Linked DNA regions of Homo sapiens: region 1 is linked to region 2. The links come from fine-mapping of genetic effects on gene expression. A gene starts in region 2. The other region holds a variant in brackets. All regions are shown on one strand. Distances are between the middles of the regions. Region 1 holds the start of LOC124902562 (a long non-coding RNA gene). Region 2 holds the start of PAOX (polyamine oxidase).

Evidence for each region.
Region 1: its variant is fine-mapped to the expression of PAOX in whole blood (TOPMed, PIP above 0.99).

The regions. Positions count from the first base shown.
Region 1 is chr10:133,283,799-133,292,189 of GRCh38, forward strand. TUBGCP2 (tubulin gamma complex component 2) reads right to left here. Exons shown (of 18, transcript NM_006659.4): 9 at 6,026-6,171; 10 at 5,042-5,222; 11 at 4,331-4,511; 12 at 1,658-1,830; 13 at 1,287-1,415; 14 at 84-204. LOC124902562 (a long non-coding RNA gene) reads right to left here and starts at 8,249. Exons shown (of 2, transcript XR_007062394.1): 1 at 7,604-8,249; 2 at 7,035-7,509. The variant G/A (reference allele first, on the strand shown) is at 4,219.
Region 2 is chr10:133,374,622-133,382,828 of GRCh38, forward strand. It overlaps PAOX (polyamine oxidase), which reads left to right and starts at 4,641. Exons shown (of 7, transcript NM_152911.4): 1 at 4,641-4,876; 2 at 5,378-5,864; 3 at 6,839-7,038. The coding sequence starts at 4,696. LOC124902563 (a long non-coding RNA gene) reads right to left here and starts at 4,270. Exons shown (of 2, transcript XR_007062395.1): 1 at 2,039-4,270; 2 at 115-585. RefSeq lists an enhancer at 3,734-4,233 and silencers at 4,207-4,466, 4,567-4,976.

The DNA of each region.
Region 1 (8,391 bases), 91 kb before region 2:
CGCCCTGCCTCTCCTGCACTTCCTGTCTCCCTGTGAAAGGAAAGTGGCTTTCAAACGTTATTATCTGTGGAGCTAAAACTCACGGATTTCAGGTTTTTCTCCAGGATGTGCCAGGTCGGTTCCATCACTTCAAACATCATGTAGTATTGAATATTCTGGACGAAGTTGAGCATTCGCTGCCGCAGAGTGAAAGCCCCAGCAAACCTGAGTGACACGGAGGACGGAGGACAGCCATGGAGGACGCGGCCCCGACAGCGCCCACCAAGTGACACGGAGGACGGAGGACAGCCATGGAGGACGTTCTCTGGACGTGGCTATTTCCTCTGCAGAGCAAGCGCCCCTCCCAGCACACCAGACACTCACGGCCGCTGCTCCTGCGTCTGCCCAGCACAAGCTGTCACCGTCTACCAACCTGTGCCCTGCAGGGACACCCCCAGCCAGCTGGACGGTGGAGACTGGGACGCGGGCTCCTTGGTGGACGGACCCCTCGGAGCCCACGCCAGGAAAGTGCCACACAACAGATGCATATTTGTGCTTCATCATCAAGATGAGTTCTTTTTCTTCTAATTTCTTTTTTTCTTCGAGAGACAGGGTCTTGCTGTCGCTCAGACTGCAGTGCAGTGGCACGATCTTGGCTCACTGCAGCCTTGACCTCCTGGACTCAAGCAACCCTCCCACCTCAGCCTCCTGAGTTGCTGGAACTACAGGCATTCCCGGCTAATTAAAATAATTTTCTTTTTTTTTAAGAGATGAGCTCTTGTTACATTGTCCAGGCGGGTCTCGAACTTGTGGGCTCAAACAATCCTCCCTCCTCAGCTTCCCAAAGTGCTGAGATTACAGGCATGAGCCACTGCACCCGACTGGACAAATTCTTATGAAGCTCTGCCATCGACCCCTTTTTTCAACACCCTAGAGGCACAGACCGGCTGCAAAGCACCTCTGGTCCCAGCAAGATGTGGCTGTCCGCTCTCGGGAGGAGCTAGTGTCCTGCACACCGACCTGGGCAGTCTCCATGCCCGTGCAGTCACCACAAGGCTCCAGAGAGGGCTGAGGGACAGAGCCAGCATCCCCTGTGGGGTGGACGGCAGCGCCGTGCAGCCCCAAGACAGGAAAATGAAGCAATGAAGCATTATGGATCTAAAGCCACCAACGTGCGCTTCCAGATGACACTTCCAGAAGCCTAGAAAGCTGTCTACCAGGAGGGCACAAGGGGGGCGCTGCACCACTGGGCAGAGTGCAGCGAGCGCTGCTTCAGGAGGGCATGCGGGGGCAGAGGAAGAACGCACCACTGGGCGGAGTGCAGCGAGTGCTGCTTGGCGGTTTTGTTGCTGATCCAGACGCTGCAGAGCTGCCGCTCCACGTGCTTGCAGTAGAACATGTGCCTGAAGAGCATCTGGTAGCGAGTGAGGGCTTTCCTGCAAGAGACGTGGCGGCACCTCAGGTGGGCCTCCGTGACCGGCGGCGTCGTGGACACGGCGTCTGTACTCCACAGTCCGCACCGTGGCCCCCGGACAGCCCGTGAATCTCTCGGACACTGAAGGCCGGGGAGAGCCGCCTTGGGTCCTCTGTGGGACGAGGTGGCCACCGCGTGGCACAGTTCTCGCTTCTGCCAAACCTGAGTGAAGATCTGGCAGGTGCCCGAGCAGCCGACCCGCACCTGTTGATGATGAGCGAAAGGGGCCACTTGACGATGTAGTCGAAAGAGAAGGCCTCCAGGCCGCTCAGCGCCAGCTCCGTGGGGTCGGCGTGCGCCATCGCCTTCTCCTGCTTGGTCTCGATGGCCAGGACGCGCAAGAGCTGAGTGATGAGGTCATGGGGCATCAGGTCGATCTTGGAGGGAAGGAAATGAAACAAAGCATCCAGTTTTAAGGAAAAGACCCGAAGTCGCATCCCGATCGCCATCCTCGCTCACAGACCCAGCGCTGACGTAAGGTTCCCTACATTCCGATTCTAAATATCAGAGGCTTTTCAAAAACCCAAACATCTACTGATAAATCAAATTCAAAACTGAACCACTTCCCATCAGAACAAAACAACAAAAATTCAGATGAATTACTTTGTAAATACCCACTGCTGCTGTGGGTGGTATAAGGGAAAAACCGCTAAGGACGGTGAAAGAAACGTGATTCCTTAGGACGAAAACCTTTGTACCATGATAAGCACCAGGCCCAGGTTGAAAAATGAAGCATATTTGACGAGGGACATAATAGTTATTATAAGCAAGTAATACTGTCCTCACGTTAATCACTCGAGTATTTGCTAAGTTCCAACCACCCGCAACAGAGTTCCTACAAAACCATCGCACAACGACAGGACAGGAAATGAAGGGCAGGGGATAAAGCAAGAAGAAACAAGCAGCGGACAGACGAAATCGTGACCATCACAAACGCAGAAATGAGCCCCTGACATCACTTGTCCATCAAATAGCCAAGGTGGGAGCTTTCGCAGGTGTGCAGACAGCAGCGTCCTGAGACTGGACTCCATCAACTCCAGCAAGGTCAGCCTAGTCATACAAGGGCCATGTATTGTGACCCAACAATTTCACTACCAGGAATTTTTCCTACGAAAATATTCCTGCTCCTAACAAGAGACCCCAAAATATCTGAATCAAGAATAGACAGAATGACAAGGAGAAAAGCAGTTCTTCAGTGACAGGGAGACTCGGTGCCCTACTTCTAACCACGGAGAGAACCGCCGGACAGACGATCAGTGAGGAAAGACACGGCCTCAACCCACCTGCAGAACACCACCCCAACAGCACCGAGGGCGCGTCCTCCTCCCGCGCGCACGGAACCGAGGGCACATCCTCCTCCCGCGCGCACGGAACACTCTCCAGGATGGATGTGGGGCCACTACACAAATCAATACATTTCACAAAACTGAAATCACAAAAAGTCTGTTCTCTAACAAGGAGATAAAGTTAGAAACAAGCAACAGAAGGAAAACCAGAAACTTCACAAACATGTGGAAGTTAAACATAAACCACCCACGGCTCCAACAAGAAATCAGAGGGAATCAGAAACACCTCCAGACAAACAGAAATTATGACGCTAGGGGATCAGCGAAGGCTGCACTCGGAGGGATGTTTACAGCTGTAAACTAACTTTTCAAATTAAGAAACTAGAAAAAAGAAGACCACACTGAACCCCTAAGCAGCAGACAGGAGTAACAAAGATGACAGAAGAGAGAAAACAGAAAAATACAGTCAACAAACCCAAGAGTTGGTTCTTTGAAAAGATAATGAAATCGACAAATTTCTAGCTACATCAGCTAAGACGAAAGAAGATTCAAATTACTAAAATCAGAAAAAGAAGGGATATAACTACTAATCTTACAGAAATAAAAAGCAGATACTAGAAACCCATGAACTGTGCACCAGACAAGATGCGAGACAGACAGCCGACCAAGAGGAAAGGGACTGAGCAGACCTGTGGCCAGCAAGGGGCCAAGTCCCCCTCAAAAGTCTCCAACAAAGACAAACCCAGGGCCCAAGAGCTCCCAGGCAAACCCTGCCAAACAGCCAAAGAATCAACACCCTCCTGGGGAGGCGCAGGTGAAGGATCGCTTGAGCCCAGGGGTTCAACCAGCCTGGGCAACACAGACCCCCGTCTCTATTAAAAATAGTAAAAAACAGATAAAACATATATATATTTTAAAAAACGGCTGGGCACGGTGGCTCATGCCTGTAATCCCAGCACTTTGGGAGGCCAAGGTGGGTGGATCACCTGAGGTCAAGAGTTCAAGACCAGCCTGGGAAACATGGTGAAACCCCATCTCTACTAAAAATACAAAAATTAGCTGGGCGTGGTGGCGCGCACCTGTAATCCCAGCTACTCGGGAGGCTGAGGTAGAGCATCACTTGAACCCAGGAGGTGGAGGCTGCAGTGAGCTGAGATCATGCCACTGCACTCCAGCCTGGGTGACAAGAGCAAAACTCCGTCTCAAAAAAAAAAACAAAAAACAACGACAACAAAAAGGCAAAAACAAAAAGAATTAACACCACTCCTGAAACCCTTTCAAAAGACCTGAAACCCTTTCAAAAGACAGATGGAGGGACACGTGAAAACAATTCCACAAGGCCAGCATGACCTGAAAGCCAGGCCCGGACGAGGGCACTGCAGGAAAACCCGAGACCCGCGCCCCTCCAGAGCACAGGCACAAAGACCCCCGATCCCGGCAAGCCGGCCCCGGTAGCCAAGTGAAGGAAACAGACCCTGC[G/A]GTCGCCTCACCGGGACGGGGAGTGGGGGACAGGGCTGGCCTCTGCTGTGCTCTCCTCCCAGCCCCTCCGAGGCCTCTGCCACAGGGGACAGCCCCCGGCACCCCCACCCACCTTGAGGTCGTCCTTGAAGGGGTCAGTGTTGGCCGTGCTCATGCGCAGCGCCAGCTCCAGGAGCGCTTCCAGGCGAGGGGGCGTGATGTCCTCCACCGGCTTCCGGAGCTCCTCCTCCGCGAGGTCCATGAAGTGCACGAAGAAGTCGCCCTGGTCCATGAGGAAGTAGCGCTTGATGGACCTGCGCCAGGGAGCAGGCGTGAGCAGGTGCCCACCCGCAGGTGCCCGCCACAGCCAGGGAGCAGGCGTGAGCACGTGCCCACCCGCAGGTGCCCGCCACAGCCAGGGAGCAGGCGTGAGCACGTGCCCACCCGCAGGTGCCCGCCACGGCCAGGGAGCAGGCGTGAGCACGTGCCCACCCACAGATGCTCGCCATAGCCATCACCCTAAAACACACTACAACAGGCTAAGCGCTTGGCTCTCAGGCAGGGGCTGTGCAACCACCACGCAAGCTGTGGCAGGAGGAGCTGAGAAGGGGCTGGTGGGCCCTGGGCAAGGAGGGGAGCTGGGGCCCCTGGACAAGGTGACCGGGGGCCTACACCACCCACTGTGAGTGCCAGGTCCTTGAGCTAGAGACCATCCAGCAGTGCCCACTTTCAAAAAGACAAGGCGGAGCTGCCAGAAGAAACCCAGCGATCTCAGCCCCACGTCCCACAGGTTCCGGTTTCAGAGGGAGGTGAGTGCCCGCACAGGGACAGGGCACGGAATCACCTGAGGTGAGCCACCAGCTCCTTCTCCTCCATCAGGAAGTCCAGCAGCACCTTGCTGGCGTAGTTAAACGCCTTCTCGATCTGCTCCACATACGCCCGCTCTTTTAACGTGTAGATGATCTCTTTAGCCACCGGGCAGGTGACGTCATGGCCACACTCTCTGACCACATTTAGATATTTTCCTGAAAACACAGAAATTCAAAATTTTATTCTCCACATGGTCGATCTCAGGCCCCAGCTGTCTTTGTCTACACAGGAGGCAGTGGAATGGACATTGAATGGGCTCTCCACACGGTCAGTCTGAGGCCCCAGCTGTCTTTGTCTACACAGAAGGCAGTGGAATGGAAACTGGGCTGCATGAGGCGGCTCCACACCCTTGCTCCTTCCCGGTAAATCACTGTCAGCGGCTACAGACTGAGCTGGTGGTGGCAGGGCTTTGCCGTGGCTCTGCACATCTGGAATTTTCTAACCAAGGGCACAGAAATAATTTCGAACAGGCATTATGAGAACCGGATGGCTAATCGCTTCCCAACCCTTTCGTGACGGCCCCGATGTGCCGAGTCCAAGTCCCCGCGCCACTGCCCTGGGTCCAGGTCAGGCCCTAACCTGTGTGGTCAGAGATAGGAAACACTGCCGGCCGCCAGGCGTGTGTCTTTGCTGGTTTTTCCTGACATGCTAGCGGAGTTTTAGAAATCAGAAACAGAAATAGAGAAGGCACCTGTGAGAGAGCCTCGCAGGGTCAGGGACAGAGTCCCGGAGATGGAAACCTGAGGGAACCTGGCAACAGAGACCATCTCAAGGCCTAACTCAGCGCCGCAGCCCAGCCCACGGGCCAGTCCTGACCTCAGCCCCGCATTCACGGACACCAGGGCTCAGGGCAACCACAGGGTGAGGCACAGGCTCCCGGTGGGAGGGCCTGGGCTGCAGGAGACTCTCCAGGCAGAGCTGTGCTGCGCACCCCAAGTCCCCGCCCGCTGCGCCGCACCTGTGCTGAGGATCTTGTCCGCCATTTTCTGCAGGAAGGACGGGATCTGCTGCTGGACGATGGTGTACCGCTGGTCCCAGTACTTGTCGTTGTAATCCTCCTGGATCCTCTCCTTCCGCAGCTCGTGCTCCTCGACCATAAACTCACTAAAACCACAGGGAGCGCTTCGGTCACAGGCAAAGCAAGGGCGCCTGAGGCAGGCGACACTTCTCCAGGCCGGCAGCGCGCAGGGACATTAACAGAGGCCAGCACACTTCCAAGTAACGTTCCACAAGGGCCGAGCCTAATCTACCAGTTACTTCTCAACTGTGGGCTAAAACGAACCTAGGGGCCGGGCACGGTGGCTCACGCCTGTAACCCCAACACTTCTCGGCTAAAACGAACCTAGGGGCCGGGCACAGTGGCTCACGCCTGTAACCCCAGCACTTTGGGAGGCTGAGGTGGGCAGATCACGAAGTCAAGAGATCAAGACCATCCTGGCCAACACAGTGAAACCCCGTCTCTACTAAAATACAAAAAATCAGCTGGGCGTGGTGGTGTGCACCTGTAGTCCCAGCTACTTGGGAGGTTAAGGCAGGGGAATCGCTTGAACCTGGGAGGTGGGGGTTGCAGCGAGCCGAGATCATGCCACTGCACTCCAGCCTGGCAATGGAGCGAGACTCTGCCTCAAAAAAAAAAAGAAAAAAAAAAAAAAGAAAACCAACAAACCTACAAACCTCGCTCTGGAACGGAGTATTTAACCTGGGCTCAGGGAGAATGTACGGTCCGCAGAGATAGGTGGGAAACTGATTTGTCTTTATCTGCACCCACCTCTTTTTGGAATTTAGCATTTCCTTCCATGATGAGCCCAGGCAACAAAATGATGCTCGTGTGGGGTGCGTGGGGCCCTGACACCCAAAATGATGCTCGTGTGGGGTAGGCGGGGCCAACATTGACAGAAACCAGACATCTCCACGTCATCATCTGAACAACTTCAAACATCATTTACGCACTTCAAGTGTGAAGGTGCTTTCTTTAAAGGTGCCCATTATACCAGATTTTATTTGGTCCATTAGTAAAGAAATAACATTTCCACATCACTAATGTATTTTTTGAAAATATTTCAACAACGGTATCTTGACGTAATAGACATAATACAATTCTTTGGGAACTAACATATTTTTATCCATTTAAATATATCGCACTGAAGAGAAGCCGACAGACCCCACCAGATCAGGAAATCCAAGCACCAAAGAGGTTGAAGGACCTAATTGGAGGCAATTTAATGTCCTGCACACAAAAGAATAAGGCCATAAGCAGCTGGGCCATTCCTGCCCTGGGCCCCATGGGCAGCAGGCGGACATCTGCCCGGGGTGTGCTTTCCTGAGACCACAAGCAAAGGAAGGCCAGAGCCCCCAGAGAGGGCAGCACGCGCCCTCCGTGTCCCCCATGTCCCTCCGTGTCCCCCATGTCCCTCCGTGTCCCTGTGTCCCGGGGAGCCCTACCTGTACGGGAGAGGGCAGCATGCACCGTCCGTGTCCCCCATGTCCCTCCGTGTCCCCGTGTCCCTCCGTGTCCCCGTGTCCCGGGGAGCCCTACCTGTACGGGAGAGGGCAGCATGCACCGTCCGTGTCCCCCATGTCCCTCCGTGTCCCCGTGTCCCTCCGTGTCCCCGTGTCCCGGGGAGCCCTACCTGTACGGGAGAGGGCAGCATGCACCGTCCGTGTCCCCCATGTCCCTCCGTGTCCCCGTGTCCCTCCGTGTCCCCGTGTCCCGGGGAGCCCTACCTGTACGGGAGAGGGCAGCATGCACCGTCCGTGTCCCCCATGTCCCTCCGTGTCCCCGTGTCCCTCCGTGTCCCCGTGTCCCGGGGAGCCCTACCTGTACGGGAGAGGGCAGCATGCACCGTCCGTGTCCCCCATGTCCCTCCGTGTCCCCGTGTCCCTCCGTGTCCCCGTGTCCCGGGGAGCCCTACCTGTACGGGAGAGGGCAGCACGCGCCCTCCGTGTCCCCCATGTCCCTCCGTGTCCCCCATGTCCCTCCGTGTCCCTGTGTCCCGGGGAGCCCTACCTGTACGGGAGAGGGCAGCATGCACCGTCCGTGTCCCCCATGTCCCTCCGTGTCCCCCATGTCCCTCCGTGTCCCTCCGTGTCCCCGTGTCCCGGGGAGCCCTACCTGTACGGGAGAGGGCAGCACGCACCCTCCGTGTCCCCCATGTCCCTCTGTGTCCCTCCGTGTCCCTCCGTGTCCCCCATGTCCCTCCGTGTCCCCCGTGTCCCTCCGTGTCCCTCCGTGTCCCTCCGTGTCCCCCATGTCCCCCATGTCCCCGTGTCCCGGGGAGCCCTACCTGTACGGGAGAGGGCAGCATGCACACTCCGTGTCCCCCG
Region 2 (8,207 bases):
ATAGCGGAAGTGTTTCCATTTGATTTAGTTCTAGGGAGTCAGCATGAATTGGCCTCCAGACCCTGTTCTCCTGCCTCACTATGTTCAAGAAAATAATTCAATTCAAACCAAAAATGAACATGCACCAAAATTTTATTTCAAGACCGAGGGTAAAAATGAAGACATCTCGTGTAAGTAGAAACAAATCAACAACAAACCTCAACAAACCTTTAGTAAACGATGCTCTATACTAGTGTAGTTAAACCTCTGGGACAGACAGGCCCAAAATGAAATGGCTCAGACAGAAAAGAGGTTTATTTCCTTCCTTCCTTCTCCTTCACCTTCTCTTCTTTCCTTTCTTTCTTGTCTCGCTGTCACCCAGGCTGGAGTGCAGTGGTGTCATCCCGGCTCATCATAGCTTGCGCCTCCCGGGTTCAAGCGATTCTCCTGCCTCAGCCTCCTGAGTAGCTGGAACTACGGGTGCTTACCACCATGCCCGGCTAATATTTGTAGTTTTTTAGTAGAGTCGGGAGTTTTGCCATGTTGGCCAGGCTGTTCTCGAACTCCTGACCTCAAGTGATCCACCGGTCTCGGCCTCGCAAAGTGCTGGAATTACAGGAGTGGACCACCGTGTCCGCCAAGAGGTTTCCTTTCTAACGACCCAGGAGGCCGGGCAGCTCCCGTCCTCCATCAAGTAATGTAGCCACAAAAGCACAAGCAACAAAGGGAGAACATATGTAAATTGGATTTCACCAAAATTTAAAACTTTTATGTCTGAAAGGACACTACCAAGATAGTGAGAGGACTGAACAGACATTCCTCCAATGAAGATAATCAGTGTCAGATAAGCTCAGCATCACGAATCATTAGGGAAATGCAAACTGACCCCTCAGTGATACGACGTCACACCTACTGTGCTGGCTGCAATAAAAAGCCCAACAGTCACAGCGGGTTGTGGGGGACGTGAGCGGGGAACGCTGGTACACTGCCAGCGGGAATGGAAAATGGTGCAGTCACTTTGGAAAACAGTCTGTTGTTTCCTCAAAAGGTCAAACAGCAACTCCACTCTTAGGTGTACACCTCAGAGAAATGAAGACAAATGTCCACAAAAACTTAGACATGAACGTTCATAGCAACATTATTCATAATAGCCAAAAAGAGGGAAAAAGCCAATTGTCCATCAACTCATGAATGGATAAACAAAATGTCATATATCCAAACAATGGATACATTAGAATGTATTAGACTATACAATGGACTCTATTCAGGAGTAAAAAAGAAAGAAGCGCTGATACACATTACAAAATGGACAAGCCTTGGAAATGTTATGCTCAGTAAAAAAAGCCAGACACAAAGGCCGTGCATTGAATAGGTTCCATTTCTATGAAATGTACAGAACAGGCAAATCCACAGAGACAGAAACTAGATTAGCGGTCACCAGGGGCTGGAGGGAGGGGTAATGGGGGGGACTGCTGAGGGGCATCCCCATTTGCTTTTTAGGGTGATGAAAATGTCCTAAACTTGGGGCCAGGCGCAGTGGTTCACGCCTGTAATCCCAGCACTTTGGGAGGCCAAGGCAGGTGGATCACCTGAGGTCAGGTGTTCGAGACCAGCCTGGTCCAACATGGTGAAACTCCGTCTCTACTAAAAATACAAAAATTAGCCGGGCGTAGTGGCACATGCCTATAATCCCAGCTACTCAGGAGGCTGAGGCAGGAGAATTGCTTGAACTTGGAAGGCAGAGGTTGCAGTGAGCCAAGGTAGTGTCACTGCACTCCAGCCTGGGCAACAGAGCAAGACTCCATCTCAAAAAAACAAAACAAAACAAAAAAGTTCTAAACTGGATGATGGTGACAGTGGCACAACTCTGTAACTAAACTGAACACCATTGAATTGAACACTTTAAACGGGAGAAGTCTTACAGCATGATGTCTATATCAATAAAGCTATTTTAAAAAATGAACAAGCCTGATTCAGTCAAAGCCACATGGGTAGTTGCCACCTTGATCACCATAGGTGGCATCACCCAAGGCCCTCTGGAGCTAGGAGAAGCACATACCTTGTACCAGTCAGATGGAAAAGAGGTTGTGTCCGTGTGTTCCAGCTGGTGGCTCTGGCATGGCAGGATTGTCCAGGACTGGCCGTGGTCACGTGCACTCTCCATTTCAGAGCAAGGGGGACGAGCGACTAACCCAGCCCCAGGTCAGCGCGTCAGCGGCCCGTGCTATTGGATTCAGGCTGTGGCACCACATCCAGGGGACAAAGAGCGCGTCGGTTGTCCCCACCCTGCAGCTCTTGGGTCCATGTCTTCTCTCTCCGCGCCATAAAGCCAGAGTTCCCATTTCAGTCACTACAATCACCCCTCCTTGCACCAGGCCTTCCAGGTGTGGGGCATGGGCATGTTTACCTCTGGCCTGTGTGGACCGCTGTGGGGAGGCTTGGCCAGCAAGTTGCTGAGCCAAGTATCTTTTATGGGATCCTGCCGCTCCACAGGAGGATCCGGGAGGCTGAACTAGAGTTAAGTTAGAATCTTTCGGTTCCCCTTCGGGCTGGGCTCCCCGCAGGAACCAGGAACGGGCTGGCCAGGAGGACATGATGGACCGGGAGAAGGTGACAGAGGCAAAGCCAGACCCTTCCTGTTCCATCTTGCAGAGGCTGTCCCAACGCGAGGTGAGGCCAGGTGCCTGGGGGACATCGATGCCTGACCAGAGCCCAGCCTGGACAGCCTTCCAGCAAAGGCTGGGCACTGGCCGACCGTAACGGCCCAGGAGAATGAGGACACGGGAGTCTCGGGGCTGGAGGAGCTGGCTGACCAGATGGTGCCTGACACGGTGCTGAAAACAGGGCAGCAGTCCCCAGAGGCTGAGGGGCCAAAGTAGCCTGTCCACCCAGAGTGGCGAGGCCCACGCCTGTGCAGGAGGCCTGAGGCATGGGGTGGCCTCCCTCACAGCTGTGCCCACCCAGCCTGTGCGCAGGGCGATGTGCTCCTATGTCTGGGCAGTGAGCTGGGCCCTGCGGCGAGAGCAGCAGCAGCTCGATTTCACACGGAGCCACTAGGGAGTGGGCCGTTCCCTTGGCCATACCCGTGGGGGACCCAGTTCATCTGTGGAATTCAGAACCCCAGAGTATTTAATCTGCCATCTCAGGACCTCCGCTGGGGAGCTGGGGCAGGTGGGTGGGTGGTCCCGCTGGGCTTCCGTGGTGCATGCCAGGGACCTCAGAATGGAGCGCCCCACTGAGCCAGCGGCTCTGCTTCAGGCCCAAGAGCAGGGAGTAAGAGAGAAGCCTGCTCAGGCAGAACAGGTGACACTCGTGGCGGGGGCTGCACCCCAAACACTTGCCATCCGACTAAGGGTGTGGGGCAGCCCTTCTTTCCTTAGTCCTGGCATGTCGGGTGGGTCAGCTTGGTGGACAGCTGGCCCTGCTGACCCGGGATCCGCCCTGGGTTCCCCATGGCCTGGAGGCAGGAGGAGATGGCCACTGCATCCAGCGTCGCCTCCTGGTGCTGCGGGCCCCTGACGGACAGAGGACGCTCGACCCCTGCCCGCCACCGCCCAGGGAGTCAGCCCGACTCCCAGGCACCCGCCCCTCTCCCTGCCTGGAGCTCAGCTCGCGGGGTTGGCTAGGGAGTGATGGGGAGTGGAATCCAGCGACACCAGGTCACCCTTCCGGGAGCCTTTTCTCCAGCTGGGACGAGAGGGAATCAAAGGAAAGTAAGACACGGCTCAGGAGGCCCACGCCGAGAGCGAAGAGTGAAGCTCACGCTGGCAAACTGGAGCGCGCGGCCCCTCGGCAGAGGACCGGGGCTCAGGAGGCGGGGACGCGCCTGAAAACAGGGCGGGAGCCTTTCCAACCCCCGCGGGCTGCGATGCAGCAGAAAACTCGGCCGCCTGCACCGGGGATTCTCCAGAAACACAGGCGTGCCTGGGTGTGCGCTCAACTTCCCGGGCGAGGGACGTTTCTGCACTTGCCCTCGGCTTCTGAACTTTGTACTTTGCGAGTGTACTTTGTACTTTGGTCCTGTGTCCCTGCAGCCCTGTGACTACACGCGCACACGCAGGCGCGCGCACACGCGAACTGACGGCTCGCTGGCGATGCTGGAGGCTTTCACAGCCCCCCTCCGGACGCGTTAAGCTCTCCCAGGTCCCACCCCTGACACCGTGGCACCCCCAGACCCACTGCGCCCTCGCACTCGACGCGGGTCCCTGGGGGAAGCGCTCGCTGCGCCCTCGTCTCCCTTGGAGGAGACACTGGCCCGCCCGGCCGGCCGGCTTCTCCCTCCATGGGGACGCTCGCGCGCACCGCCCGGCAGCGCGGGACGCTCCCTGACGCCTGTCCTCGCGGGCCCTCCCACGCGGGGCGCTTCCCTCTGAGACCCGAGCCCAGTCCGGAGGCTCGCGGAGGCCGAGGCGCACTGTGGGGCTCGGCCCGGCCCCTTCCCCGCCCCTCCCCGCCCCTCCCCGCCCCTCCCCGCGCCTCCCCGCGCCTCCCCGCGCCTCCCCGCGCCTCCCCGCCCCTCCCCGCGCCTCCCCGCCCCTCCCCGCGCCTCCCCGCCCCTCCCCGCCCCTCCCCGCCCCTCCCCGCGCCTCCCCGCGCCTCCCCGCCCCTCCCCGCCCCTCCCAGCGCCTCCCCGCCCCCTCGCTCCGCCTCCGGCCTCCTCCGAGAGCTCCAGACCTCCCGGCTACTCAGAAGCCCTCGGACTGCCCGGACCGCGCGATGGAGTCGACCGGCAGCGTCGGGGAGGCCCCGGGCGGACCCCGGGTGCTGGTGGTGGGCGGCGGCATCGCGGGGCTGGGCGCGGCGCAGAGGCTCTGCGGCCACTCCGCCTTCCCGCACCTGCGGGTCCTGGAGGCCACGGCCCGCGCCGGGGGCCGCATCCGCTCGGAGCGCTGCTTCGGTAACCGCCCCTCCCGGAGCCCCTCCCGGAACCCAACCGGCTGCGCCCGAACTCGCCGGCCCCAACCTGCCCTGCGCGCAGCCGACCTGCCCGGCCGCCTCACCGGGCTCCCCGAGGGAATCCCCGCTCGCTTAATCCGCCAGAGTTCACCGCCCCGAAACTCAGGGCTCAGAGTTAGTCAGGAGGGCGCCGGCCAGGGAAGGCGACCTACGGCTCCACAAGGCCGCCCTGATTCTGCCCCACGGGGGCCCCCCCAGCCCCGGGGTACGCCCACCCTGCGCCCCTCCCTCTGGTCCACACCGCCCGACAAGTGCCCTCCTGCCCAGGTGCTCCCCTTAAACTGGGTCTGACAGGGCCCTGCCCTGGGGGACCACAGGGCCCTTGGGGACAGTGTGGTACATCCTCCTTGGGAAGGCCAGCGTGGGCGTGGCCCAGGAGAAGGGCTCGGGGTGACCCTTCTAGGAAAGGGACCTCCAGGTGGCATCTGCTGTCCCCTCGCAGGTGGCGTGGTGGAGGTGGGCGCGCACTGGATCCATGGGCCCTCCCGGGGTAACCCCGTCTTCCAGCTGGCTGCTGAGTACGGGCTGCTGGGGGAGAAGGAGCTGTCCCAGGAGAACCAGCTGGTGGAGACCGGGGGTCACGTGGGCCTGCCCTCCGTGAGCTACGCCAGCTCCGGGGCCAGCGTGAGCCTCCAGCTGGTGGCGGAGATGGCGACTCTGTTCTACGGCCTGATAGACCAGACCCGGGAGTTCCTGCACGCTGCAGAGACCCCGGTGCCCAGCGTCGGGGAGTACCTCAAGAAGGAGATTGGCCAGCACGTGGCCGGCTGGACAGAGGATGAGGAGACCAGGAAGCTGAAGCTGGCCGTCCTGAACTCCTTCTTCAACCTGGAATGCTGTGTGAGCGGCACCCACAGCATGGACCTGGTGGCCCTGGCACCCTTTGGGGAGTATACCGTGCTGCCGGGGCTGGACTGCACCTTTTCTAAGTGCGTGCCTGAGCCCCTGCCCCGCCAGTCCTCCCACCAGGCTCCCCAGGGCACCGGGGCTGGCTGAGCTCCGCTCTTGCTTGGGTATGGGAGGGACAGGAGACCATTTGTCCTCCCCATTCCGACAGACTGGTTGCTCCTTTCCCTAGTTTTGCTCATTTAAGCCAAAAAAGTTATTTCTGAGAGAGAGTGTTTAAAAGAAGGAAAGGTAAGGCTGAGTGCGGTGGCTCACGCCTGTAATCCCAGCACTTTGGGAGGCTGAGGCAGGTGGATCATGAGGTCAGGAGTTCAAGAACAGCCTGGCCAACATGGTGAAATCCCATCTCTACTAAAAATACAAAAATTAGCCGGGCGTGATGGTGCATGCCTGTAATCCCAGCTACTCGGGAGGCTGAGGCAGGAGAATTGCTTGAACCTGGGAGGCGGAGGTTGCAGTGAGCCAAGACTGCGCCATTGCACTCCAACCTGGGCGACAGAGTGAGACTCCATCTCAAAAGAGAAAAAAAGAAGAAGAGTAAAGACTTCTCTTGCTCCTGTATTTATGAGGGGCTTCAACTGCAGAGGGGGCCAGACAGGCCCTCTCCCTGTGGCAGGGTGGCTGCCAGGTACCAGGTGCAGATGAGACCCTCCTCGGGCTGTCCCGTCACCCCTGGTGTTGGCCCCAAGGCTCCTGGCCAGGCAATGGGCATTTGTGAGTCAGGAACTCTGTGGTGGTAAGGAGGAAGCCCTGGTTCCGGCAGATTGCCTTGAGTGCTCTGTGCCCACTGAACCCTCCCTTACAGCCTGGAGGGCAGGTATGAGCATCCTTGAGGTGGAAAACCACAGAGTGGAGCTGACCTCCTTGCTGGCCCTGAGCGATGGAGAGCTCCCCGCAGCTACCTTTGATGCGGGTGGGAACTCAGAGCACGTATTTCCACCAGTCCTGCCCTTCCAGGGACTGGGCCTCTACGAAACCAGCACTTCCGTCTTTCTAGGGGCTATCAAGGACTCACAAACTGCATGATGGCCGCCCTGCCGGAGGACACTGTAGTTTTTGAGAAGCCTGTGAAGACCATCCACTGGAACGGGTCCTTCCAGGAGGCAGCCTTTCCCGGGGAGACCTTTCCAGTGTCGGTAGAGTGTGAGGATGGAGACCGGTTCCCGGCGCACCATGTCATCGTCACCGTGCCCTTAGGTAGGTCAGGTTTTCAGCCCAAACCCCCATCCCAAGTGCCCCCGCCTCTGCCCTTACCCTGCCTCAGTTGGCTCTGGGGCGTTTGCTTGTGTACGAAGCTCACATTTTCGTTCTAGTAAGTTCCAGATAGGTGGAAGGAATGATTCTGTTATGTTTTGTAGCAATTACATGCTTTGGAATTAAGGGTTTCACCGTAAGAAAAAACGCGAGTAAGTATGCGTCCTGCTCGCTTGGAGGTAACCGTTTAGGGTTGCGACGGCCTTGGAGATTAACCACACCGCACTTTGCTGCAGACAGGAAAAGGCATGAAAGGCCTGGTCTGAAGGTCAGGCCTGGGGTGACCTGTTGAAGGAGCCGTGTGTATAATTCTGTTTAATTCTAGATCTGGTGCTTTAGATCTGTCCTTGAGTAGAGGTGGTTTGAAGCTGTTTTATAAAAGGTGGAGATGGTTGAAAACAGAGTTACTAGGATAATTGCTGTCAACTGGACATTTGCTTCCCACGGGTTTCACGCTGCCGTGGGTCTCTGCCTGAGTTATCTCATTGACTCAGGCAGCCTTGGGAGGTGTCTGTCATTGTCCCACATATGACAGATTTGAACATCTAGGCAAGTAGAGAGAAGTCACTTAATTGCCCAAGTTCACAAAGCTAGCGATTGCCAGCACTCACTTGGAAATCTAGGTGTGATTGACAGGTGTGTGATGAAAAGCAGGAGCCTCCGCAGCCCTAACTCCTGTCTCCAAGGGGTGGCTTTGCCCTCCCCGGGGCAGGGATGAGCACTGAGACCCCATTGCTGTTTCCCAGAGATGCAGTCGTCGTCCACACATGAACATCTGCTGCTGGCTGGGCACGGTGGCTCACGCTTGTAATCCCAGCCCTTTGGGAAGCTGAGGCAGGCGGATCACCTGAGGTCAGGAGTTCGAGACCAGCCTGGTCAACATGATGAAACCCTGTCTCTACTAAAAATCCAAAAATTAGCTGGGCATGGTGGCAGGCACCTGTAATTCCAGCTACTTGGGAGGCTGAGGCAGGAGAATCGCTTGAACGGGGGAGGCAGAGGTCACAGTGAGCCGAGATGGTGTCATTGCACTCCAGCCTGGGTGACAGAGTGAGACTCTGTCTCAGAAAAAAAAAAAAACCAAAAATCTGCTGCTCAGTTTGCCTGTTTTT